Linked DNA regions of Homo sapiens: region 1 is linked to region 2. A link means that fine-mapping ties the variant in region 2 to the expression of a gene that starts in the linked region. Tissue or cell type: cerebellar hemisphere. Region 2 holds a variant in brackets; the other region holds the start of a gene. All regions are shown on one strand. Distances are between the middles of the regions. Region 1 holds the start of LINC01484 (long intergenic non-protein coding RNA 1484). Region 2 overlaps LINC01484 (long intergenic non-protein coding RNA 1484).

Region 1 (15,891 bases), 28 kb after region 2:
CCAGGCCAATAGGCTATGGGTTTTCTCACGTGCATCTCGACAGCTGGGTCTTGTGCTGAGACCTTGGAGCCCCTCCATGGGCTCTGGAGGGTCCAATTTTTGGCTGTACCCTCAGTTGCCAGCACAGGGCCAGAGTCGATGTCCAGAAACTGGGCATGCCTATGTCCAGTGAATGGACAGGGTCAAATTCCTGTAGCAGGAGCCATTGGGAAGTAGTTAAGAGCATGGCTCGGGAGTCAGGAGTTGATGACCTGGGTTCAAATCTCAGCTGTGACACTTTCTCACTCAGTAGACAGAGCACTTTTCTTACCCTCTCTGGGCCCCAATTTCCTTAGTACCAAACAGACTATATCGGTAGCTACCCCATGGGGATATTGTGAAGAGGGAGTGAGACAATGCATAGAAAGTGCTGGCACTCCATAAGGACTCAACACTAACATCAGAGCCCATGGCTCCAGCACCTGCTGAGGGTGCTGGCCCACCACAGCGGGCACCTGGTAGGTGCTTGTTAAGTGAGCAATGAACTCACATGAAAAGCGATGCCACCTTCAACCTCCCTCTCAGGCCATCCAGTGTCTTCTTCAGTTGAGACCCCTCCAACACCTCCCTTTACTGCTCCTGCATTGCCACCCTACGCTGAGCTATAGCTACATCCCGTCATGGTGTGCTGGAGAGAAGGGTGGGACCACTTTGATTTGGTTTTCTTGGTCAGATAGTTCATTTGGCAAGCATGGTCCTGTTGCCTACTCTGTGAGCAGTGTGAAGCTGAAATAAGGAACAGAATCCCAAAACATCAGGGATCATCATAGACTCTCCCAGTTGGGAGGAGACATTCAGGCTTTTCTCCTTCAAGAACGGGGAAACTGAGGCCTCCCTTGGGAAGCAGACTTGCAAGTTGATGGCAAAACTGGGACTCACTCCTTGATGCTTTGGCTTCCAGAGCTGCAGCCCTAAAGGGAGTGCTGCCCTCAGAAAGGAATCCTTTTTGTGTCCGGAGAAAAAGTCAGGTCATACTTGGAGAGTTTTAATTTGTTTAAAAGGGCTATGACTGGCCGGGCATGCTGGCTCACGCCTGTAATCCCAGCACTTTGGGAGGCCGAGGTGGGCGGATCACGAGGTCAAGAGATCGAGACCATCCTGGCCAACCTGGTGAAATTCCGTCTCTACTAAAACTACAAAACACAAACACACACACACACACATTAGCTGCATGCGCCTGTAGTCCCAGCTACTTGGGAGGCTGAGGCAGGAGAATCACTTGAACCCAGGAGGCGGAGGTTCAGTGAGCCGAGATTGCGCCACTGCACTCCATCTTGGTGACAGAGCAAGACTCTGTCTCAAAAAAAAAAAATGCTACAACCACCTCCCAGACAATCTTAAAAATGAAAACAAACAGAAACAAAAGCAAAAAGTCTCTGATTGGCATAAACAACAAAGAAGTGGTAAGCTGGGGACTGGCCGAGTCTGGTGTCCCCTCTCCTTCAGTTCCACCCTGCTGGGGTGCCGCCAGCACTGACCCCGACCCGAATCCCTCACCCCACAAGGCAGCAGTGGTTGTGGCATTGCAGCTACACATCTACACACCGTCTCTTCCAGGCTTTCCTAGAAGTCTCCAGTCAGCCTCCCTTGCATCTCCGTTGCCTAAATTGGGTCTCGTGCCCATTCCTAAGTCAGCCCTTGTGGTTCTTATTGGCAAGGACTGGGTTAACATATTTCTCCTTTCAACAAATATTTATTAAGTACCTGCTATAGGCAGCATAGCTATGAACAAAATAGAAGAAAGTTCTAAAAATTGACATATTAGAACTAGCAGGAGGATACAGACAAAAAACAAATGAGTAAAATATGCAATACTGTTAGATGTGATCAGTGCTAGGGAGAAAAATACAGCAGGGAAGGGAGAAGGCGAGTGCACGTTGGGGAAGTAGCCATGTTAACTAGAGTGGTCTAAGCAGAGACCGAGGGAGGTGAGGGAGTCAGTCATGAGGGCATCGAGGGGAAGGGCATTCCAGGCAGTGGCAACAGCAGTGCAAAGGCCCTGAGGCAGAAGTATGCTTGGTATGTTTCACAAACAACAAGGAAGCCAGATGACTAAAGCAGAATGAGGGAGGGGGATACTGTAGGAGAGGGGTCAGGGAGGTAAGTGGGGGCAGGAGCTATGGCCCTTGAGGCCGGGTCAGGGAGTAAGTGGGGGCAGGAGCTATGGCCCTTGAGGTCTGTGGTGAGGATTCTGGCTTCTACTTTGTTTATTGTAGTTGTTTTGTTTTTTGAGACGGAGTTTTGCTCTTGTCGCCCCGGCTGGAGTGCAGTAGCACCGTCTCAGCTCACTGCAACCTCCACCTCCCAGGTTCAAGTGATTCTCGTGCCTCAGCATCCTGAGTAGCTGGGATTACAGGTGCCTGCTACCTGCCCGGCTAATTTTTGTATTTTTAGTAGAGACAGGGTTTCACCATGTTGGCCAGGCTGGTCTCAAACTCCTGACCTCAGGTGACCTGTCCGTCTTGGCCCCCCAAAGTGCTGGGATTACAGGTGTGAACCACCACACCCGGCCTCTACTTCGACTTAGATAGGAGGCCCATGGAGGATTTTGAATGGAGAAATGTCCCAATCTCATTTAGGCTTTAAAACAGAGGTGTTTAATCTTGGCTGCGCAGTGGAATCACCTGGAGAGCTTTTAGAAAATACAGATGCCCGGGGCCCACCCACAGAGGTTCTGATGTCATCAGTCAGGGATAGGGCCTGGGAATCAGGATTTTTAAAAGACACAGGAGAGTCTATGTGCAGATGAGGTTGAGAGGCGTGGGTCTGTGTGCCGAGGACTCCCAAATCCTTATCTCTGACTCTCGACTCGTGACTCTCCCTTGATGTCCATATTTTGATGTCGGCTTCCAACTTAGGGTCTCCATTTGGATGTCAAATCATCATCATAATCGTCTCCAAATTAACTGAACCTCAATCTGATTTCTGACCCCTCCCCAAGCCTGCTCTTCCTGTGGTGTCCTCTGTCCAGTTCCTCAGGCCAAAACCTTAGTGTTATCCTCGGTTCCTCTGTTGCTTTAACACCTGACATCTGATTCTTTAGAAGACCATGCTCACCCTACCTTCAAACATACCCAGAAAGCACGGCTGCTCACACATCCACTGCCGCTACCCAAACCGAGGTCCTCCTGACCTCCAGGTCTTCTGCCCCTGCCTCCAGCGGCACTTCCCAAGCCTGGCTTCTGTGGATTCACGGGGGAGCTTTCAAAACTGTGGATGCTTGAGTCCTCAGAGTCTGATAGAACCGGTGGGGTGCAGTGGGGCACTGAGAATTTTACAAGCTCACCAAGTGGTTCCATCGTACAGCCAGAGTTGAGAACCTCTGATAAGGATGGGATTTAAATCGAAGGATCTGGCAGTGACGGCCTGGGGAGAGAATACAGCTACAGAAGCAAAGAGGTCAGAGACTGAGCACTGCCAGACTCTGCGACCTGCAGAGTCAGGGAATGAGGAGGAACCAGGAAGAGGCAACAAGGAGACAGACCCAATCACTGCTGCAGGGGTGGGAAGGACCCTTGACTAACCGAAGGCACTGCTTGAGCTAAGGTGGAAAAATCAGCTTCCCCAGGGCCCAGGGCAGCATGGAGGAAGAGAGAATGGATACCTGGATCAGCTTCTCCTGGGGAAAGGGAAGGAACAGGAGGGATGTTGGGTGGCCAAAAAATATATACTAAGCCAATAAACATGATGATGGTAATGAAAATAAAAATAATGCTGAGAGAGAGGGAGGGAGAGGGAGACAGGGAGACAGGGGGACAGGGGGACAGGGGGACAGGGGGACAGGGGGATAGGGGGACAGGGGGAGAGGGGGAGAGGGGGAGGAGGAGGAGGAAGGGGAGGAGGAGGAGGAGGGGGAGGGAGAAGGGGAGAGGGAGAGGGAGAGGGAGATCTTCCTCTTCTTATAAAGCCACAACTTGTACTGCATTAAAGCCCCACCCTTATGACCTTATTTAACCTCAGTGACCTCCTAAAAGCCCTAACTTTTGACCACACCTAACTGCAAGGGAGCCTAGAAGATGCAATTCAGCTGCGTGCTCAGGCAGACAAGGAGAGCATGGCCATTGCTGAAAGCAGTGCAAGAAGCAGGTGGGAGGGTACCCCAGATAGATGGATCATTGTGTGCCAAAGTCTGGAGGAATACTAACAAGGTGAACCGGGGCACCGCCACATGCTCAGCTGTCTGGCCCTGGGTGTAGGAGTGGGGAATGGTGGGAGGGAAGTGACTATGTTGGGCAACAAGATTCCCTGGCCCTTAATTAGCCAGGTGTGGTGCCCCGTGCCTGTGGTCCCAACTACTCAGGAAGCTGAGGTGGGAGGATGGCTTGAGCCCAGGAGGTCAAGGATGCAGTGAGCTGTGATTGCACCACTCCACTGCAACAGAGCTTGCTCCATTGGGCAACAGAGCAAGACCATGTCTCAAAAAAAATAAAAAAAATTAAAAAAAGGAAAAATTCCCTGGCTCTTAAAGAGGGTCACGGGCAGAACTCATGCTCAAGACCATCACTCAGGGGTAGCTTGGCTCACAGTTTCTTCCAACTTAGACAATTGAGTATTTCTTTGAACATATGATTTCAAAGGATTCTTTAAAACACTTTAACCATTCATTTATTAGTAGGGAACATACTCATATTGTTCCACATTTGAAAAGTGAAACGAGTCAATCATGACAAACCTCCCTTCCACCCTGTCTCTCAGGCACACACTCCTCCTCCTCCCTCAAGGCAGCCAATGCTTTCAGTTTCATGCGTCATCTTGCAGTGATGTTTTATGCAAATATAAATTTTATATATAATACATTCTTCCTTTTGTCCAGTTTTGCACTAATTGTAGCATGCTCAACATAGTATCCTGATCCGTATTTTTCTCTGAGATTTTTTTCATGGTGATATGTAAAGAGCCTTCTTGATGACAACGTAGAACTCCACTCTATGATTGTACCACCAGGATAGTCCCCTACTGATGGACAGTTAGGTTATTTCTAATTTATAAATAATCTTGTAATTAAGTTTGCATATATCACTTCATGCAGGGGTAGATCTATTTGCAGGATAAACTCATAGGAATAGAACTTCTGGGTGAAAGGGTTATACTATTCTAGCATAACTGGCTGTGAACCGCTGGGCCACTCCACATGTCCTTCTGTCTGAGTCCCTCCCTAGTCCCACCCAATGATGCAGACCTGGGCGACAGTTCTGAGAGGTGCTGAGCCCAGCCATGTGGCCCCTGGCATGGTTCCATGCCCCTTGGAATATGGCAGTGCCCAGAGTGTTCTCCTCAGATTCTTGGCTGGAGACGTCTCAGGGAGGCCATCCTGTGACCCCCATGCCCGTGGTCCCACATCAAGGATCATTGTTTCACTGCCGCTCTTCAACCACCAGCCCAGCCCCATTCCTACCCCCTCCTCCAGCTCTATGACTTCACCCCTCACTCCCAGAACAGAGGCAAAGCCCAACGAAGGCCAAGGCAGCACTGTGATAGCCAGAACAATGGCCCCTCCAAAGCCATCCATGTCCCAATCCACACAATCTGTGACTATGTTGCCTTACATAGCAAAAGAGACTTTAAGATATGAAGTCAAGGATCTCATGATGGAGAGATTATTCTGCATTATTTGGCTGAGCCCAGGGTAATCGCTAGGGTCCTTAAAAAATGGAGACGGGAGGCCGAAAGTGAGTCAGAGAGAGTCTGGAAGATGTTATGCTGCTGGCTTTGGAGTGGAGGGAAGGGTCGTGAACCAGGGTATATAGGTGGCTTCTAGAAACTGGGAAAAACAAAGCTATGGCTTCTCCCCTAAAGCCTCCAGGAGGAATGCAATCCTGCTGACACACTGGTTTTAGCCCAGTGAGACCTATTTTGGACTTCTGACCTTCAGAACTGGAAGGTAATAAATTTGTGTTGTTTTCAGCCACTAAGCTTATAGTAATCTTTTACAGCAGTAACAGGAGACTAATCCAACAGTCCCCGAACTGCCCCGCGTGGGAGTCCAGTGCTGCCTCTCTCCTGCCTCCCCTCTCTCAGAAGGCCTGGCTTCAAATCCTTGTTCTCCTTACCCACCGGGTGCTTTTGGGTACATGCAGCATTTCTTTGGGCCTCAGTTCTCTCATCTGCAAAACGCAGCACATGATCAAACTGTCACAAGGTTGCCGGGAGGTTAAATGAGATGATGCTTGTGAAGTCTCTTAGCAACTTTGCCTGCCATGAAATCGGTGCTTGATATTTTTAGATGTTGAGCATAATTCTGAAACTTTCAGTTGTCCTCCCAGAACCTACTCCTGCTCTGGCCCTGGCTAGGGCCCTAACTTCCCCTAAGGAGACAGCCCCTTCCTGCAGTGCTTACACCCAGCAGAGACCCTCAGGGAGGCAACTCTCTCCTTTCAACCGGCCCCAAGGAACCAGGGCCCTGAGGTGCTGTTCCCAGCAAAGAGGAAACTCAACCCAGGTTCAAATCCTTTTTTTTTTTTTTTCTGCCACTTCCCAGCTGGGTGGCATTGGGGGAGTTACTCCACCACTCCGAGCCTTGGTTTCCCCCTTTGTAGAATACCCACAGTGAGCCCTAGCCCAGGATGCTGGCCCAGGAGTGTGCTCATGGCTGGGCACGTAGCAGGTACTGGATAAACAGCTTCAGTGCACTGCCCTCTCAGCCAGGACCAGACCCCAGACTTGGTGGACCCTGGGGCTCATACAGTGTGTAGCGCCTCTTTAAGAAGGAGCCTCTGAACTTACAAACATACAATAGGGCTTCTGATGGGGCCTATGCCGGGGAGGCATCCTGAGGCCTGAATTCCATTCGCTTCTGCTTTCTGCTCTCAATCCCTCCTCCTCCGTAATGACCGGGCCAAACGTGTTTCAGAAACGTCCCTCCCAACTTGCCTGAATAAGCCCCAGGAGCCTGAGATTTTTACGAAATTGTCAGAGGCAGTGACCATCTTAGTCTCCCAGCAGGATCCAAGCTCCCTTGGTAAGTGAGCAAGACTTTTGATGGAACAAAAGCAAAATCTCTATCTGATGAGATTAGCTCCTTGGAAAAGAGCACACAGTTCATCTCTACCTTGCTTGGACAGTAGAGCTGCCAGATTAAAACAGCAACAACAACAGCTATATACATATGGATTCAATTTAATTTGAATTCCAGATAATGAATAATTCTTTAGTATAAGTATATACCAAATATTGCATGAGACATTTAACTGGATGTCCTGAATTTTATCTGGCAGCCCTGTCTGTCAGAGACACAGCAACATGGCTATTCAAATTCAGGATGTGTTTTGCAGAAGTGTTCCTGCTTTGAGAAGCAGCTGGGGGCCCTTGAACTTCAGCAGAATAACCAGTGGCAGAGGAAGGGATATGGGAAGCTGCCCCCGGGCAGGTTGGTGACGCTTTTAACAGCTGCACCCAGAGCCAGGTGGTCAGGGCCTGAACTGTAGCCTAAAATGAGCCTTGCAGCCACCCCCAGAGCAGGTGTTGGCACACCCATTTCTGCAGATGTGAAAGCCAGAGCGCAGCAAGAAAGGAACACCTTGTGAGCACCTACTATATGCTGGCATCTTACACGCATTAGCTCATAGCTAAGAGTGGGCAGATTTTGTAGCTGTTGCTATTAATGTAATGCAAGCATCAGAGAAGCATTATATGAAAAATAAGTCTTCTTCCCCACATTTGAGAGCGCTCAACCTCTTAAACCTCTCAGCGATTCCTCAGCCTCAGCACTATTGACATCTTGGGCCAAACTTTTTTCTTTTTTTTGTCGTGGGCTGACCTGTGCACTGTAGAATGTTTAGAAGCATTCCTGGCCTCTAGCCACTCAATGCCAGTGGCACCCCCCTCCCCGCCCCGTGACAACCAAGAAAATGACTCCAGACATTGCCAAATGTCCCGTAGGAGGCAAAAATCGCCCCTGCAAAACCACTGCTCTAGAATAATCACTGTTAATCATTTTGTGAAAGGGAAATAAATCTTGGGACCCCAAAATCACTAGGCCAAAGGGAAAAGTCAAGCTGGAAACCATGTTGGGCAAACCCACCACCCATTTCCTTCCTGAAGAAGATAGCTACAAAGATTTTTAAAAGCTACTTACCTTCCTCACAATTTTCCCACAAGGAAATTCCTTGTGGGCCTCAAGATCTTCACCCTAAATTAGTTCTGTTGAATTTCACCCTGGCAATGTAAACCAACAGCTGATCTTCACAGATGTGGGACAGAAAGTCATCCCTCTGCTCACCTGAAGCAAATGCCTATCCGATTGCTTCCTCTGCCCTATTGTTTATGTAAAAATGCTGATTCACTGAGCCAGACTAAGGCATAAGTGACTATTCTTCTACGCCCCCGCCCCCCACCACCGCATGTAAATTGTGTATTCAGTGAAAGGCTGATTAAAGACTCAAAAGAATGCGACTATTTGTCTCTTGTCTACCTATGACCTGGAAACCACCCCCTCCACCTTTCTGGACCAAACCAATGTACATCTTACACATATTGATTGATGTTTCATGTCTTCCTAAAACATATAAAAGCAAGCTGTATCTCAACTACCTTGGGGCCAAACAATTTTTGGCCTCAGGACCTCCTGAGGCTATGTCATGGGTGCGTCCTTAACCTTGGCAAAGTAAACTTTCTAAACTGATTAAGACTGTCTCAGATACTTTGGGTTCACACTTCCTTGAGAATATTTTTAGAATACTTCTAAGCACATGTGTATGCCTTTAAAAAACAAAACCAAACAACGACAACAAAAAGACAAGGCCAGGCTCAGTGGCTCACCCCTGTAATCCCAGCACTGTGGGATTACAGGATCTCTTTGAGCCCAGGAGTTTGAGACCCGCCTCAGCAACATGGTGAAACCCTATCTCTACTAAAAATACAAAAAACTAGTAAAGTGTGGTGGTAGACACCTGTAGTCCCAGCTGCTTGGGAGGATGACTTGAGCCTGGGAGGAGGAGGTTGCAGTGAACTGTGACTGAGCTACTGCACTCCAGCCTGGGTGACAGAGTGAGAGCTTGTCTCAAAAAAAAAGTTTTAAAGAGACAGGTTAATATATACACCTCTTTTATCACTTGCCTTTTTACTTATCAGTATACCTTGGACATCTTTCTGTACATCCCACTCATGAATCTGCATTTCTCCTTTGACAACTACGTGGCATTTCTTTGTGGGTATTGCTGCCATTGATGTAACCAGTTCCCTCACTACTGAGGCAGTTGAGTTGTTTCCAGTGTTTTGCTGTTACAAACAGTATTCCAGTCAGCATTCTCACACATGTATCTTGATATATCCATAGGATAAACCCCTAAAAGTGGAATCACTGGGCCATAGGTGTGTTCAGTTTTAATTTGATGTGCCACATTATATCCAAAATAGTTTGTACAATTTACTCCATTGCCGCTAACATCTTGATGAAAAGTACCAAACATTTAGTGAGCATTGACTGTATTTCATACACCATGTTAAGGGATTTACATGTGCTATCTTATTTAATTCTCACTATAATTCTACTGGTAGGAACTAATATTATTTCCATTTTACAAATGAAAGAACTTTGGCTTAGAGTGATTAAGAGTATTTTCTAGGCGGGGTGCGGTGGCTAATGCCTGTAATCCCAGCACTTTGGGAGGCCGAGGCAGGCGGATCACCAGGTCAGGAGATTGAGACCATCCTGGTCAACATGGTGAAACCTTGTCTCTACTAAAAATACAAAAAATTAGCCCAGCGTGGTGGCGGGCGCCTGTAGTCCCAGCTTCTTGGGAGGCTGAGGCAGGAGAATGGTGTGAACCCAGGAGGCAGAGCTTGTAGTGAGCCGAGATCGTGCCGCTGTGCTCCAGCCTGGGCGAGAGAGTGAGAGTCCATCTCAAAAAAAAAAAAAAAAAAAAAAGACTTTTCTAAGCTTGTCAGTGACAGTACCGGGATCCCAACTCAGAGCTCTCTCAGTCTAAAACCTGTTCTCTTCACCAATACATTTACTCTTCATAACAATTGTGTGAGCTGGGCCCCATTATTCCCATTTCCAATGGGATTACTGAGGCTCCAAGTAGTTAAAGTGACTTGCTCAGGGACATAGAACCCAATCACAAATCTGAGCCTGACTCCAGAATCTGTGTTCTTCTCTTGAGACTCCATGCCAACTCCTCCAGGAAGCTCTCTGGGATTACTCCAGCCATCCTTATCATCTAACCCCCAAGAGCAGCTCCTTGGGAGCCCTGGGAATCTGCAGCAGGCATTTCAACTCAGAGTGCATAGGTGTGTGGGTGTGTGGGATCTCACAGATGTTGAAGTCAGACAGACTAGATTAGAAACCCCTATGCCATCTACCTTCTGAAGTGAACTAGGGCAAGAGACCCTCCCTCTTGGGGTCTCAGTTATTTCATCATTATGATGCTCGTTATTACTGTTGCTATTAGTAACATGATAACAGTGATTACCCCTTATGGAGAGCCTTCTCTGTACCGCCTTTTACAGTGGGTAGTGTTTTAGTTTAGGTCCCTCAGGAAGCAGACACTGAGACAATGATTTGGGGCAAGGTTTTTATTTGGAAGGTGACCCCAGGCATCTTGGTGAGAGACTAGGGAAGTGACACAGGGAACAGAGTAAAACCATGGGATGGTGTGTGATGGACAGGTAATTGCCAAGGCTAGCTGGGCTCCAGCCTGCTGGGGACCTCTGAGAAGTCATGTGGCTCACGCCATGGAATACCCTACCCAGGCAATCCTCAGTGGTTGGGGGTCACTCTCGCTTTGTTGACTACAAGGCATTCCCACAGCCTCAGGTGGGGGCTGGGGTACTGTCTGCAGGTGGCCAGTAGCACAGCCTCCCTGCAGGCAATTTACAGGAGCCTCAGAATGAATTAATCACCACTCACATTGTGTTTACCACTGACCTTGTGTTTTAATTATCATTGACCTAATTGCCATTGACCTTGTGTTTTTTTCCTGTGAGTTCTGTCACTCTTTGGAGGGTCTATGCCTTGTACCTCACTTGGGTTTTTTGCAGTACCATGTGGGGCATGGCATAAACCTCCATAAATTGAGGCTGATGATTTGAATCCTTCAGTCATCAGCAAATATTTACTGTGTACCTACTATGTACTACGTGCTGTTTAAGAAATTAGTAGACTTCGGCCGGGCACGGTGGCTCACGCCTGTAATCCCAGCACTTTGGGAGGCTGAGGCGGGCGGATCACCAGGTCAGGAGATCGAGACCATCCTGGCTAACACGGTGAAACCCTGTCTCTACTAAAAATACAAAAATTAGCTGGGCATGATGGCGGGCGCCTGTAGTCCCAGCTACTCGGGAGGCTGAGGCAGGAGAATGGCATGAACCCGGGAGGTGGAGCTTGCAGTGAGCAGAGATTGTGCCACTGCACTCCAGCCTGGGTGACAGAGCAAGACTCCATCTCAAAAAAAAAAAAAAGAAGAAATTAGTAGACTTCATTTTTTTTTTTAGCAGTTTGAGGTTTATAGAAAAATGAGTGGAAAATACAGAGTTCTCATCTACTTCCAAAGCCCCCCAATCCCGTTACCACCTGTTATTAACATCTTGCATGGGTGTGCTATATTTGTTACAACTGATGAGCCAATACTGATACATTTTTATTAACTAAAGCCTCTAGTTTACATTACGGTTCCCTTTTTGTGTTGTACATTCTATGGCTTTGCACAAAGGCATCGTGATATGCATGATGCCACTATTCCCTGTGATCCACCTATTCAGCCCTCCCCGCTTCCCGCCCCTTCCCTCCAACCCATGGCTCCGGTGACTTTTTCAATGCTGGGAGTACAGCTAGGACAAAATAAAATTTCTGTCTTCAGGGAGCTAACATTTTAGTAGGGAGAGGGATAATATGTAAGCCAGCAAATAACACACCCAAGTCCAGGCGATGATAGAGGCTGTGAAGAGAATTTGTGTGGCTAGGGGAGGGGAGCTCTTGTTTAGACAGGATGGTCAGTGAAGGCCTCTTTGAGGAGATGACACTTGAGCAGAGCCTTCTCTGGCCGGAGACCCAAGGAGGCCAGGCTGTGGCTCCGAGGACTGTGCTGCTGAGAGGCTGTGAAAGATTCCATAGGCCACAGTGGGTGGACCCAGAAAGGCACGTTGACCCCTCACAGTAAAGGGAGGTGTCATGGCTGAACTGGGTCCCCCTGGCCTCAAATTCATATGTTGATGTCCTACCCCTAGTACCTCAAAATGTGACCACATTTACAGAGAGCATTTTTTTTTTTTTTAGACAAAGTCTCGCTCTGTCACTCAGTCTGGAGTGCAGTGGCACCATCTCAGCTCACTGCAACCTCTGCCTTCCAGGTTCAAGTGATTCTCATGCTCAGCCTCCTGAGTAGCTGGGATTACAGGTGGGCACCACCACACCCAGCTATTTTTTTTTTTTTTTTGTAATTTTTAGTAGAAATGGGGTTTCACCATGTTGGCCAGGCTTGTCTTGAACTCCTGGCCTCAAGTAATCCACCCACCTTGGTGTCCCAAAGTGCTGGGATTACAGGCACGAGCCACGGCACCCAGGCAGAAAGAAAGAGGGTAAGAAGTTAAATGGAGCCATTAGGGTGTGCCCTCCTCTGGTATGAATGGTGTCCTTACAAGAAGAGGAAATTAGGACACAGACACACACAGAGGGAAGACCAAGTGAATGAAGATGGCATCGGCACACCAAGGAGAGAGGCCTCAAGAGAAACCAACCCTGCTGACATCTTGATCTTGGGTTTCTAGTCTCCGGAACTAGGAGGCAATAGATGTCTGTGGTTTAAGCATCCCAGACTGTGGTATTTTGTCGTGGCAGCTGGAGCAAGCTAGCACAGGAGGCACGAAACCTGCCCTTCCATTCCCCCAGCCCTCCCATCCCATGCAGAGGTGTTAGAGAGCATGATCTACTGTCACTGAAACAGTCTAGGTCCTAGAAGCTGCCTTGAGGTGGCCTTCCTTTCCATCTCGGGGGAGCAGAGCTAGCTGTTCTACCTGCCTTGCTCTATGACTCTCTGCTGGTTGTGGAGGCCACTCACGGAGGACCCACTGGGCATGTCCAGAACAGCATCACAGACATCTGCATCCTGACAGGCAGAGGCCAAGACCCCATTCTTCCTTCCACTTAGTAGTTGTGTGACCTTGAGTGGGTTACACCTTCCAAGCCTCAGTTTCTATATCTGTGCAATAAGGGGAAGTGAAGGTTCCTCCCTCCTGGGGGGGACCGGGGAACCAAATGAGTGACCGTGTGAGAAACACTCAGCCCAGCCCAGAACACAGATGAGGTTAGCAACCCTTTCATCCCATGTAGCATTTGTCTTTACAATGAGTCTGAGGGGGAGACGTTATCCCCATTTTATGCAAGAAACCTGACCTAAGGGCACCTTGCGGTGACCAGCCAGTCAACCCACAGCCTTGAAGAAGGGACCACCACCCCCTGGCTGGTTCTGCCCCCGATCCTCTGGTGGAGCAGGTGGTGCAGTTGGCTGTGGCACTGACATCACTGCGGTCCAGGCTGTGGGCCCTGGTCTTGTAAATAAGTCTCAAAAATTTGACTCCACTCTCCGTCCCTCCCTAGCCCCTTGAGTCAGCAGGACTGCCCTGAAACAGCTCAAGAACAGACTTTCCATGACGTTTCCAGCTTTTAATTTTCCTAGTTCCCTTCTAAATCACCTCTCTGGACCTCAGTTTCCTCATTTGAAAAAATGGGTAGAAGGGGTCAGTGCTTTCTCAGGCCTCCCCGCCACAGCAGAACCATCTAGGAATTCTGCCAGAAATGTCACTGGGGGAAGTCATGCCATGGTGACAGTCACACTTAATGACAGCTCTTATTGACTGCACATTTCCTATATCAGGTACTTTCTATACATCCTCTCATTTTATGTCTGACAAGGAGCCTATGAGGTGGTTGATACTGTCCCTATTTTACAGATGAGAAGACAGAGACCCAGAGATGCTCAGTGGTATTTTCAAGTCCTCATGGCCAGTGCATGGTAGAGCTGAGACTTGAAATCAAGTCTGTCTGGGTTTGAAGTCTGTGTCTCCTGCATCCTGACCCTGACCCCCCGTGTGTCTCGTGGCTTACAGTTTTAGGGTTTTGTTTTTAGGCAAAACACTGTTTTGTCTGAATTACAATTCAGTTCAGGTTTATTTTAAAATTCATAACAACACAGGTGACTTCCAAATTGTAGCAGCAAGGTTGGTGCCTAGAGCGCAAGTTTTACAGCCCAGGTTTTCCTTTGCTCTTCCTTGGGAGGGGAAACATCCTGTGCCATGAGCATTTGCTTTAATTTTTACATACACACACAGACACAGACACAGATACACACACACCCAGGGATAGATTCATTTCTCCAGCTCTCCTTTGAAATGGAGGGAGTAAGATCTGGCACAGTGGCTCACGCCTGTAATTCCAACACTTTGGGAAGCCAAGGCGAGTGGATCACTTGAGCTCAGGAGTTCAAGACCAGCCTGGGCAACATGGTGAAACCCCGTCTCCACAAAAAATACAAAAATTAGCCAAGCATTGTGGCACATACCTGTAGTCCCTGCTACTCGGGAAGCAGAGATGGGAGGATCACTTGAGCCCAGAAGGCAGAGGCTGAAGTGAGCTGTGATTGCGCCCCTGCACTCCAGCCTGGGAGACAGACTGAGACCCTGTCTTAAAAAAAAAAAAATGAAATGGAGGGAGCAAAGAACAGAGATATTGTTGAGGCTTGGGGCTGAAATTAAAGTTCAAACTAAAATCCTGAAGAGATTGACTATGCTGATTTCCTTTGGACGTTAAAAAGCCTGCCAGAAGGATGCTAATTGACAAGGCTTCCCAGGGCTTGGAGGAGTTTCCCAGAATGCACTGTGAGTGAGGCAGACAAGGCTGCACGGGCCCAGTTCTCTTTGTTCTGCATGTGTGTTGCTGCGGCATGGCATGATGGAGACAGATAAATGCGAAAACATTTTGTACACTGGATAGTGTACAACAAGGAGGAGGAGGAGAATGTGGCTCACATGGCCTGGTTTCAGGCTCAGCTTTGCCCCCAGCTAACTGTGTGACCTGGAGGAAGTTGCTTATCTGGGCTGCAGTCTGTCCCTAAGAAATAGTTGGACACTACAAGATCTCATTTTTCCATTTGAGTCTAAAAAAGATTACCTTGGCCAATGTGGCACAAAATTCTGTTTCCTAGAAACATACTCTTAGCAGCAGCAATGATAACAAAATATAAAAGTAGCTAATATTTATGAAGCACGTAGTATGAGCTAAGCACTGAGCAAAATAATTTTTGCATGGCCCATCTCACTTATATCTCCTGATAAAGGCACAAGCTGGATACTTATATTATCCCTACACTAAGGATGAGAAAACTGAAACTCAGAGAGGCTAAAGGATTGCTGAAGTCCCTGAGCTAGAAAGTGGCAGATCTAGGATTTGGAAATTTGGAAAACCAAATTTTCCTGCGTCCATGGTCTCCCCCTTAAGCAAAGGTTCAGGTCACAGTCATAAGCCTGGATGCAGCAGTGGAGATGGTTAGGGCTGATAGGCCCTCACTTCAGGGTCACCAACAAGCCAGAGTCTGATCTCCTCTAACGGAGTGTCCCTGGCTTCGGCAGGCAGTGCGGGAGCGTAACCGGATCTGCTTAGAGAGGCCCCAGCTTGCGCCATTCACTGGGCCAGAAACCTGAGCTGCTCCTGAGAGGGCTGGAAAACAGCCTGGGGCTTGGAGATTGGCTCACACTATCCCAGCTATTCCAACGCAGACTAAATGGCTTCTGGCCCTTGTTAATGGCGCCATCTCAGATCAGTGCCAGGGGAACCACTGGTCATTTGGGGGCACTGGAGGGAGCAGGGTAGAGGCGTGGGGTGATGGTGGGTGATTAGCAGCTCCCCTCTTCCTCCTCGCC
Region 2 (11,727 bases):
CCCAAGGACAGCCTTTTATGAACAACCTCTCTATGTCTTTGCTGAAATTCAGTACTGCATCACTCAATTCCTCAAGCTTGTATTAGGCTGTCGTCATGCCAGATCCTGGGCCATGTTCTGAGGACACAGAGATGAGCCAGAGGGTCTCTGCCTGAGGCCTCAGAGTCTGGGGGAGACAGATCTGTAAACTGTGCAACCAGGCAGGCCACAGCAGAGGTGTGAGCAGAGGAGAAACAAAACAATCTAAACGCTTTGGTGGAGACAAGCAGTCAGACAAAGGGTGGGGAGGAGGTGGTGTTTAAACTGATTCCTGAAGGATCAGTGGGAGTAGCCCCCTCCCCAACTCCATCCTGATGAGAGAAGTTTTTCTGATAGAGAAAAAAAATGAGGGCAAGGAGAAAAACCGGGTGAGAGCTTCCTGGCTTTCGAGACTGAGTGCCAGTGCTGGTGGGGAGAAATGAGCAATGAGGCTGGGAAGTTAGGTGAGCCCTGCCTGGTTGGCCAAGGGCCTGGGCTTCCCTCTGAAGGTAATAGGGAGCTCTTGATGGGATTCACGCAGATGGGAGACCTGATCAAGCTTGAGGCAGGGTGGAAGAGGGACAGGAGAGGGCGAGTTGGAAGCAGGGAGGCTGGATGGGAGGCCATGGCAAGTTTGCAAGTTGGCACAGGTCTAAACAGAGGCAGTAGAATAGAAAGTCAAAGAGGAGAGGCCCCAAACATCTTAGGCAGGACATGCTTGTTTATTCATCTCTGAAAGTGAAAGGGAGGCAAGTACAGATTTAGTATGCCACTGTCCAGAGCGAATCGTAAGGGTACAGGGTTGGTGACTGACATTCCTGCTCCAAGAAACTCAAGAAACCTGACCTGTCCCCATCCCCCGCTCCCTGTAAATGTCTGTTTTTGGTTCCTCTTGCCCACCGGATGCAGAAAGGAGGGCCAGCCATGCAGAGCTGCAGCGAGGCAGAGCATAGGGCCAGGTTTCCACGATGTGGAGAGAAGGAGTGGCCCTGCGAGCAGGCGAGGGGGGTAGGGTGGGGAAAGGAAAAGGCATGGAAAACTGCAGACCATAACCCTTGGCAAGATCCAAAAGAAGAGGAATAGTGGAGGATGCAGAGAAAGGGACCACTACAGCCGTGGGCAGGAGTTTCTATTTCCAAATGGATGTGGGGAGGAAGATTTCAGAGGGAACATATTTGCCAGGAGAATTTTGAGAGAAATGACTCAGGGTTCCACAACAATAGCTAATAGGGCAGCAATGGATTGGAGAATGTATATATCTTTATGTTCTAAAACATTTTTTTAAGGAGACACTCTAAGGCCAGAATCGCAAGTGCATGTCTTTGTGGACAGAGCAGGTCACACAAATGAGGAAAGTGGACCACATATTCAAAACACAATAGCTCAAGCATGATAGCCAGCTGCAGGTGACACCAGGCTATAGTGTCCAGGAGACAATAGAGAGGGATAGGGACTGTGGCAAACTGGAGAGCACAGATCCACAAGGGCACAGCAGCAGGTCAGCTCCCACTACTGCCACCCTGTAGGAATACAGGGCTGGGTGGCCATGTTTTCTGATTTTTCAAAAAAATTCAGAAATTTTGATTTTTTCAGGAAACCTCCTGATATGTAAATAGTAGCAGCTAGTTCAGATTTTACCCTGTGTAATAAAACAAAACCATCCAGCCTGTGGGACTGCAGTGGGTCCCTCTGCTCCCCAGCAACCTTGCAATCAACTGAAAACCCACGTCACACAGGTCCTGCTGCCTTCACTCATGTCTGCGGCTTTTCCCCAGGGGGTCTGGAGAGAGAACAGGGCTGGGAGTCATTTGTGGCGTTAACTCCTGGTAGAGTTCCACCTCTAATGTGGGTCCTTGAGCAAACCCTGTAATGTTTCCAGGCCTCCGTTCCTCCACCTATATAATGGCGGCAAGATCTTGGCTCTTCCAGCCAAAAGTCTCTTCTTTTACAATTTTCCCAGATCACTACCACCTTCTGTTGATTGAGGTCCTCCTATCTGCCAGACCCTGTGTTACTCACTCTAAGTCCCTTGCCCAGGATCGCACAGCTATTGATGTTGCAGAGGCTGGATTCCAACTCACACCTGTCTGACTTCAAAGGCCTTTGACTTAGGTACTATATTGACTCCAGTGAAAGCAACTTATTAAATAATTCAGGTAATGCTCCAGGAAAGGGGAGTGTTTTCTATTGCTCTTCATGTACCACCCAAATTCTAAGAGATCCAAACAGTTAATTTTTGCAGCTGATGGGCCAGTATAGATTTTTTAGAGTTCCCTTCGACCTTATAAAAGGCAGAGGAGTAGAGGACTTAGCAAAAGGCCAGAGGAATCAACAACATGAGATGCACCAGGGGTCTCACCCAAGGCTTCAGACAGGCCTGGACTGGCCGACTAGGTGTCAGTCAGCAGAAGAGCAGAGGAAAGAACTCACCCCAGGAGAAAAGTGAGGTGCACGAGCATGTCAAGAACAGGGCCTCTGTTGGAGGGCAGGGGTGGCTGTTCATACAGCTCAGTGGCTGTTCCTTCCTTAAGTGCGGGGACTGGAGCAGAAAGCAGAAGGCCATTTGCATTAAAGTGTGCCACTCTGAGCACCCAGGCCTGTGTCCCCACAGACTGCCGTTCCTTCAGTTATTTCAAATGTCGCCTCTTTCTACTCAGCTGTTGAAGTCAAAAATCTGGCGTCATTCTTGACCTCTTCTTTTACCTCAAGTCTCAAATTCAGTCCATTGCCAAATTCTGTGACTCACCCCAAAATGTCTCACAGCTGTGTCATCTTCCCTCCTCTGCACTGTCCCGGCCGTGGCTGCTCTGCTGGTCTCCTCCTTCACCTTGCCCCTTTCCAGTATCTTTGTGACACAGCAGCTAGAGAAGTTTTTATACAATGCAGATCTGGCCCTGTCTCTCCTCTGCTTAAAAACCCTTTGGTGACTCCCTAGGGCACCATTAATAACGTTGCAAGCTTCCCTCCATGACCTACAAATCCTTCTGCTATCCCTCACACACTGTGCTCCCGCCACCCCTGCCCTCTTTTCAGTTCCTCAAATATGTCAAGTTCTTTCTGGCTTTGGAGTCCTACCAATGTGGATCTGAATCCCGGGTAACCTTGAGTAAGTGCTGTCACCTCTTTGAGCCCCATTCTGCTCATCTCTGAAATGGGTATAATTGTATAACTTATTTCAAGGCATCATCAGTATTGACTTTCTTGCTTTAAACTTACAATCCCATGGAAAATCCCACGGAACACTCTTTTGCTTTAAACCTACAATCCTATGGAAAACGGTGGAGAGAGAAGGATTAATGTCATCCACTGACAATTTCACCTTCATCACCTACTTAACAACGACAAAGTAAAAGACATTCATCCATTTTGGCTTCTGTTTAAATGAGTCATACAATGAAATATCAACCATTTTCACTTAAAAAATTACAGTCTACAACACTTTTTAAAAAATTTTGTGTCAATTACTCCCTTGTTTCTCTGTATACTTTTATGACCTATTTATGGATTTCTAAACAAAGTCTAGCTATTTTGTCTGGTTTTGGACTTTGTGCAAATGGAATCATACTCTCTGTGCTCTGTGACTTGCTTCCTATATTCACGTGAGGATCTGGGATTCACCCAAGCCCGTGCCTGCAGCAGCCACTTATTCATTGCCACTGCTTGCATCGTACTGCCCCGGAGGAAGGTAGCCCAGTTTTCTCACACATTCTACTCTCTGTAGACATTTGGGCTGTTCCTGGTTTTGCTATCTTGAATGATCTTGCTGTGCGCAGGCTGTGTGGGTCTCCTGGCACTGGAATGCTACAGTTCCTGGAGGGGACACACCTAGGAGTGCAGTGGTAGATCCCAGTGTGTGCGCATGTTCAGCTTGACTAGGAATCACCAACTGTTGCCAAAGGGCTCGCTCCACAAGGATTCTCCCACCAGCAGTGTCTGTTCTACCACATCCAACTGGGAAGAAAGGTGGAATGAGACGAATACGGAAAGATTACTTTTCATATATGTGTGTGGATAAGTGCATAAGTCTATGTAATTATCATATGTTTTATGCATTGTTATGAGTGTACGTGACTTCGTTAATTTCTGCAGAGGTTTAAACCATGTTTGCTCAAACCTCTGGGGTACCCCACTGTGGCTTTCATTCGCACGAATGACCAAGGTCTTGCTCAGCACCTTCAGTTCCTGCCTGGAGCCCACCAGGACCTCTGCTGAACCTCTGCTCAGACCCTCCAGGATATAGCCTGGGCTGACCGCAGTCTTGAACAAGTCCAGGAATGATGAAACCTGTTTTTCTAAGACAAATCCCCTAGAATGACATTCAAAGTCCTTCCTATGCTGAAATAACACCAGCTCCTGCACCGAAATAACACCAGCTCCTGCACCAAAATAACACAAGCTCCTGCACGGACCTCCTGGTTGCTCAGCGTTTCAGGCACGTTCTGCCTCTGCACATTCACCCTCAGAGGCCCTCTGGAGGGTCACCCTTCCCTGGATTTTCCTTCCCCAGGCTCCTCCATCCCTCAGTCTGTTCAGGTCTGTGCCCAAGATCTTCTCTGACCACCCTGTCCAGAAGACAGGCCACCACTCCTGGCTGTACCTCACCCTGCTCTGTTTTTCTTGTAAACATGACCTCCCAATGCCTTATACATGGATGTGTTCCTCTGTTCTCTGTGTTTCCACCAGAAGGTGAGTGCTTTGGGGTAGGGATGCATCTTTTCACCTGTTGGGTTAACTGTGCTCAGAGCTGTGCCCACCACATAGCAGATTCTCAAGATAGAATTGCTGAACCTATTTACGAGTGAAGGAGTCCACACCATGCTTTAAAACCTCGCTGTGAGAGATGGGTTCAGGAATGAGTTCTTTCCTTTTCATTTAAAAACAGTCCTTGGCCAGGCGCGGTTGCTCACACCTGTGATCCTAGCACTTTGGGAGGCTGAGGCTGGTGGATCACCTGAGATCAGGAGTTCGAGACCAGCCTGGCCAATATGGTGAAACTCTGTCTCTATGAAAAATACAGAAAATAAGCCGGATGTGGTGGTGTGTGCCTGTAATCCCAGCTACTCAGGAGGCTGAGGCATGAGAATCTCTTGAACCCGGGAGGCGGAGGTTGCAGTGAGCCTAGATTGCACCACTGCACTCTAGCCTGGGTGACAGCAAGACTCTCTTTCAAAGAAAAAAAAATAACAACTCCTTATTAAATTCCTCTGCAGAAATTAGTGAAGTAGCTTGCACTCATAACAATGCATAAAACATATGATAATCACATAGGTCTATGCATTTATACACACACATATATGAAAAGTAATCTCTCCATATTCATCTCATTCTACCTTTCTTTCCAGCAACTAATATTAGTTGTCCTCATATTCAGACACATACAAAAAATAGGGCTTCTTAGTTGATTTTTACCAAAAAAGTGGGATCCTACAGTATTCTGTATCTTGTTTTTCTCATTTAACAATTATGTGCTGGACATTAATCCAGATAACTGCATATGTAGAAAACTTTTTTTAACAGGTGCAAAATATTCTGTTGTGTGGGTGACCCACAATTTATTCAATTATTCCCCAGCTGACAGACAAGCAAAGGTGGCTTTTAGATTTTTGCCACTATGAACAGTACTGCAGTAACACCTTGTACTTACAAATCGTATAAATGATTGTTGTTCTATAGGACAGATTCCCACGTAAGGGATCCCTTTGTCAAAAGATACATGCATTTTGTATTTTAATAGATGAGGCTAGGTTATTTCAACATGTCACGTATTCTGCCCTTTTGCTGTCCTGAGCTTTCTTTGCTCCTGATTTCCCCAGCCCCCTTCCCCCGCAGCCCCACCCAAGATTGCCCAGAAGTGGGGTCCATCCTAACTTCCCAGGAGGCCCAGTTTCCAGGTGCAGAATTGCGCCTGGCCAGACTACCCACCCATGGGAAGCCATTTCAGTTCCATTCCCACAGTAACGTGCGCGGGTGCCTCAACTCTCTTCCCTCCAGCTGCTCACAAGGCCAGGCCTGGCCCTGCAAGGTGGCTTCAGCAGCAAAGGTGGCGAAAGCGGGAGGGAGGAGGAAAGAGGCAGGAAATGACTACGGGAGCCACCCAGAGCTTATCCTCATTCCAGCTTCCGGTTCCCTTTTTGTTCTGAGCATCTCATAGCCAGTGTATTAGCAATGATGATGCCAACAGCAATAATAAAAGTCAACATGCATAGCAGTGACCCTCAGCGGGGCAGCTCTTGTGCCACGCCCCCCTCCCCAGGGGACACTTGGCAATGTCTGGAGACACTTTTGATTGTCACAACTCGGAAGGGGGTGCTAATGACATCTAGCAGGTAATGGCCAGGGAAGCTGCTAATTTCCCACAACGAAAAATTATCCAGCTCAAAATGTCCATAGTGCCGTGTTTCTCACAAATGCCTGGTTTATAGGGTGCTTCCGGCACGACGGGAGCTGTGCTAAGTGGTCAGCACATGCAGGACTAATTTAACCTTCACACTCTTCTTTGAGCTAGGTGTTATTATTACACCCACTTTACAGGTGAGGATACTGAGACTCGGAGAGGTGAAGTGACTTGCTCACGGTCCACAGCTGTGGAGGGCAGAGGCGGCACCTGACCTCAGGTCTGCTTGACTTCACTACACCGAATGGTCTTTGTAGGCCAGCTGGCTCTGTGCTGTAGCAGCAGACAGGGCATCTGATACAAACCTCATGACAAAGAGTTGGTGGGTGGGAACGGCCTGGATGTGATCTTGGTCGTGCCTACCTACCTCTGACACAGTAGGGAGGTCTCTCTGTGACTCCTCAGCTTCTGAGCTTCTTGTGAGGTGGGGCAGAGGGGAGCTGACATAGCAGGTGAGGCATCCTCTGTGGCTGGGAAGCTGGCAGCCGAGGAAACGCGCGGTGCAGCCGTTCCTATTGTCTGATGTGACGTTCCCAAGCCGAAGCTGGGCTGTTCTTTATGACACCTGGGAGTGTACATTTGTGTTCTCTGCCTGTGCATGCTCGTGTGTGTGAGTTTGCCTGTGTGCACTTACCCATATGTGCCATGGTGGGTCTATAGATATATGCGTAAGTGTGCTCTGTGTCTTTGTGTGTAGGTTTGCCTTTGTTCATGTGGTGTCTCGTTCTCTATTTGCCTATGTGTTTGACTATACAGGCAAATTTGTCTGCATGCATATCTCTATCTGATTATATTAGAGCTGGGTGTCCAGGTGTGTGTGTGTGTGTGTAGGTGATGGGGAGCTGTGGCTGTTGTATCTATGTGTGTATGAAGTGAGTCTGGGTGTGTGTGTGTGTGCACATATGAAGGTGTAATAGTGTGCTTTTATGTACATATATTTTGGACGGACTGTACATGTGTGTCTATATATGTATTTGTGTGTGAATAGTGTGTACTTAAATACCTGTGACTGTGTAAACTGTGTGGCTTTGTGTACATGTATATAGAGGTGGCTGGGTGCAGTGATTGCTCTGTGTGTGTGTGTGTGTGTGTGTGTGTGTGTGTGTGATAGAGAGAGAGAGAGAGAGAGAGAGAGAGACAGAGAGAGAGACTCCAGGCTCTTACCAACACAGAAGCTGGAAAAACACTGCTCTCCATGTGTTCTTTCAGCCTCCAAGAATGTCAGCCTCTCCTTAGGTCAGAAAAGATGAGCACAGGGCGAGGAGCTTGACCCAGGCCCTCACTCCCCACCCTCACCGCCCCAGCCTGCCCCCACAGTGCCAGCTGTCAGGGACAGAGGGCCTCAGGCCTCACCCCCCTGCCAGCCAGTCACTAAGGCTAAACATTTACTGAGGCCTGAGGCCATGTTTG[T/C]TTAAACCTCCGGGGTCACTGCACACATGCGATCTGTTTTGGATGGCTTCTGTTCTGCAGGCTGAGGGGAGCAGGTGCCGGCTTGGCAAGGTACCCGGGGTTGCAGCTTCCCTCCGTGAGATGCGCTGCTGAAATCAAGGTTTGCTTCATCTCACAAGAAGTTTAACCTTGGCAATGCGTTCGCTGACCTACTCTTTCAGAGTAATGTGTCCTAAACTCTAGTGTCTTTGTCAACCACTGTGTATCTTCTGTAACTCTCCTCTGTAACTCTCTTCTGCAACTCTCCTTACGCTTTTCTTTAAATTGATCTGCTTCTAGAAACGTAAGTACCTATTTTAGCTTTATTCAAAGCAATTTTATCTTGTGTGATCAAGGGTTAGATATGCTAATTATAAGTTTATATATATTTTTATATCCTTAAAACATATGAAAATAAAAAGCATTGAGCCCTCTGTTCCCTCACATCGCCTTGCTGGCCCTGTGTCGGGAATGAAAATGCCTCCGAGGCTGCCTCTTGCCTTCTGTTTTAAAGGTAGCAATCTATTTCAGGAGATCTTATTTTCTTACAACTTGCCCAGGAAGACACCTTTTGCATAAAAACAGGCAGGTCTGCTGTACCCGGGAGAGAGCTTTCCAAATCCCCAGATGGAGAATGTGTGTTTCCTGGATCTGGCAGGAGGCTGGGGGAGCCTCAGGGTGCAGTGCTGGAGGCTGCACAGGAGTTTCTCCAGACCTCTGTGCCTCCCTTCCTCCTTGGTCAGGATCCTCCCCTGGGGACCTGGCTCTGTAGTGTCACTGCCTTGGTAATCCCGAGCGAAGACTCAGGCACAGAGCTTCCTTCCTTTGTGGGGCGGGGGGAGAATAAGAGGGGAGGGGAGAGAAAGGAAGAAGAGAGCAGAACAGAGGGGAGGGGAGGGGAGGGGAGGCAGATGCCCAGACAGATGGGCCTGGCCATGGGCTCTGCAGGCCTAATGAATTTCCTTCCTCCACCCTCAGGCAGGTCAGTAAATGAGACCAGCGACAGCATCTGGGATGACTCCAGGATGAGGCTAATAAATCAGGCCTAGAATGAATCCTGCTTCCCTGGAGATGGAGGAGGTAGGCCAGGCAGCAGGGAAGCTGGAAGGGCCCAGAGAAGCTCCAGCAGCAGCCAGCCCTTCGATGGTACTGGAAGGAGCTCCCTTCCGACAACAGTCGGTGGCTTCCAGAGGCACTGACTGTGCAGGGTTGAGTCCCAGAGTGGATAGGTGGGTGGGGTGAGTTTTCCCGATGGCCTGGCTTGCTGACCTCTGGGCCTCGGCCAGGGACACCCTCCCCAACTGTCGCTTAATTTATTCCTACAAATCTGCTAGTCTCAGTTCAGGCATCACCTCCTCCTTGGGGAAAGAAGCCTTCCTGGACCCTTGGGGGCCATACCCATGCACCCCTAATGTTTCCCGAACTTCTGCCATCAGCCCACTCACCACATCAGGCTGTGTTTGCACCTCCCCTGGAATGCAAGCTTATGGAGACAGAGATGAGCTGCAGCCCTAGTGGCCAGTGATGTGCCTGGCATCTAGTAGGTGATATTGATATTCATTGATATTGATACTCATTGATATTATTAATAAGTTGAATGAAAGACAGGAGAGAGAAGAGAAGGTAGCAAGCATTGATAATTCTCTGGGGAAGCAAACCAAACTTGTCCCTGGACAGAGGGGGCTGGAAGAAGTCTATGCCATTCTGGCAACCCAGGGCCCTGGGGACACTCAGTTGCTCAAGGGTGGCCCCACCCCTCCCGAGGATGGGACCTCAGGCCAGGTATTCACCTTCCTGAGGCTCAGGAAGGCTCCTTGCCAAAAGGAACCTTTGGGAAAGCCTGGGTTGTAGGAATGAAATGAGGTAAGCTATTTGGAAATGCTTTGGCAAGCATCAAGTCCTTTACTCCCGTGAAGCGTGAAATCACACCATCCCCCGGCTGGATGAAACATGAAAGAATATAGCGTCGAACTGAATTTTGCCGATGAGCAACCGAGTCCAGATAAGGGTAGTGAACTTCCCTGTTCTCATACGCTGGTGAGGTAGACCATGGCCCTGATAGCCCAGGTTCTGGAGCTAACCTGCCTGCGTCAGAACCTGGTGGTGACTTGGGAGCTGTGTGCCTGTGGGTATGTCATTTACCCTCTCTGAGCCTCTGCTCTCTGTAAGACTAGGCTCTGAACTGCACCTACCTCAGGGTGCTGTACAGAGTATGAAACAAGATATTCCTAAAACCACTTGTTTCTTGATTGCCTGCTATGAACCAGGCATTGTAGTATTGGAAATTAAGCAGGGAACATATCAGAGAAAAAAAAAAGCCCTGCTTTTAGGAAGCAGTATATTCTAGAGGGAAGGAATGAACAATGGAAACAACCTTTTTAAGGTAACAGCATCGGTGTTTTAGGGCTGATAAGTGCTGGGAGGGAAAGGCAAGCTGAGGGCGAGGGGACATTCATGTGATTCTGTGTGGGTAACGTGGGGGGTTTGCAAGCTCGTGTTGGGATGCTGGGGAAGTCCTCCCCAAGAAGGTCTTTTGACTAAAGCCCCTGAGCACAGGGCTGGCCAGGAGGGAGCACTCAGCAAAAGGTACTCTCAGAGTAACTAAGAAACAGAACCACCTCTGTCCACCACGGAAGTACCTTTCAGTTCCCGCCAGGGTATCCTCCGCTACCCAGCCCACTGCCCATTGGCTAACTTCCTCCTGCCCTCCTGACTGCACAGTCTGGGCTACCAGTCCTTCCCAAGGAAAGTCAACTTCTGTCCCACATCAGAATCATGTGCAGGTGTGTGTGTGTATGTGTGCACACACGCACACGAGCACATGTGCGTGGGCATGCGTGAGTGCGTGGCTGTGACACTTGCATTTATGGATAATCCTGTATCCATGTGCTCAATGAAGGAGAGTATGGTGCATATGAGTGGAAGTATGAGGTCTAAATTCAAGGGTATGAATATAATTGTTGAACATATTAATTTGTGTCTATAAAGAGGAGTGTGCCTGTGAGGGGGTGGGGTTTGCCTGCATGCGTGTGCATGTGCACAGGAGGCTGTGTGTGCTGGTGCATGCGTGTGCCAGGCATCTTGGAGAGAGGTGTGAGCAGCCTGGCTGGGAGGGGCTTCTCTGCGGGCGGATTTCAGATAACAGGAGGATTCTGGGCTCAGCCAGGAATTCTGGGTTTCGCCATGCTAGGCCCAGCTGGGGGAGGCTTGGACTAGGAAGGGGTTGCGGGTAGAGCCTTCAGAGGACATTGTGGGGCCAAAGTGAGGCTGGCATCTAGGTGGTCCACATTTCCATGGAGAAATACCCTAGTACAGCAGGCTGTGGCACCAAAGAGTGTGTCCACAGGGACAAAGAAAATTTACTATGTTTGCAATTAATAATAGCACCTACGGGCCAGGCGTGGTGGCTCACACCTGTAATCCTAGCACTTTGGGAAGCCAAGGCAGGCAGGAGATCGAGACCATCCTGGCTAACACGGTGAAACCTTGTCTCTACTAAAAATACAAAAAATCAGCCAGGTGTGGTGGCGGGCGCCTGTAGTCCCAGCTACTTGGGAGGCTGAGGCAGGAGAATAGTGTGAACCCGGGAGGCGGAGCTTGCAGTGAGCCGAGATGGCGCCACTGCACTCTAGCCTGGGCAAGAGAGAGAGACTCTGTCTCAAATAATAATAATAATAATAATAATAATAATCATCATCATCATCATCATCATAGCACCTACTATTACTGGGCACCTTCTAGTATCTTCTCTCTTTTAATGCTCACAAGTTTATAGAAAGAAGCCATTATAATCCTTCTTGTTTTCAGATAAGGAAACTGAGTCAAAGAGAAGGTAAATGATTTGTCTAGCATCACACACCATAGGTAACAGGGCTGGGACTGTTGCC

What was found. PIP is the estimated chance that this variant, and not a neighbour inherited with it, causes the effect.
Region 1: LINC01484 starts here. The variant in region 2 is fine-mapped to the expression of LINC01484 in cerebellar hemisphere (GTEx, PIP 0.94).

Annotation. Positions count from the first base shown.
Region 1 is chr5:173,737,907-173,753,797 of GRCh38, forward strand. LINC01484 (long intergenic non-protein coding RNA 1484) reads right to left here and starts at 8,303. Exons shown (of 3, transcript NR_108027.1): 1 at 8,114-8,303. RefSeq lists enhancers at 6,076-6,125, 6,256-6,425.
Region 2 is chr5:173,712,062-173,723,788 of GRCh38, forward strand. All of the region lies in intron 1 of LINC01484 (long intergenic non-protein coding RNA 1484), which reads right to left. LOC107984118 (a long non-coding RNA gene) reads right to left here and starts at 2,902. Exons shown (of 2, transcript XR_007059059.1): 1 at 2,765-2,902. RefSeq lists enhancers at 8,524-9,024, 9,025-9,525. The variant T/C (reference allele first, on the strand shown) is at 7,823.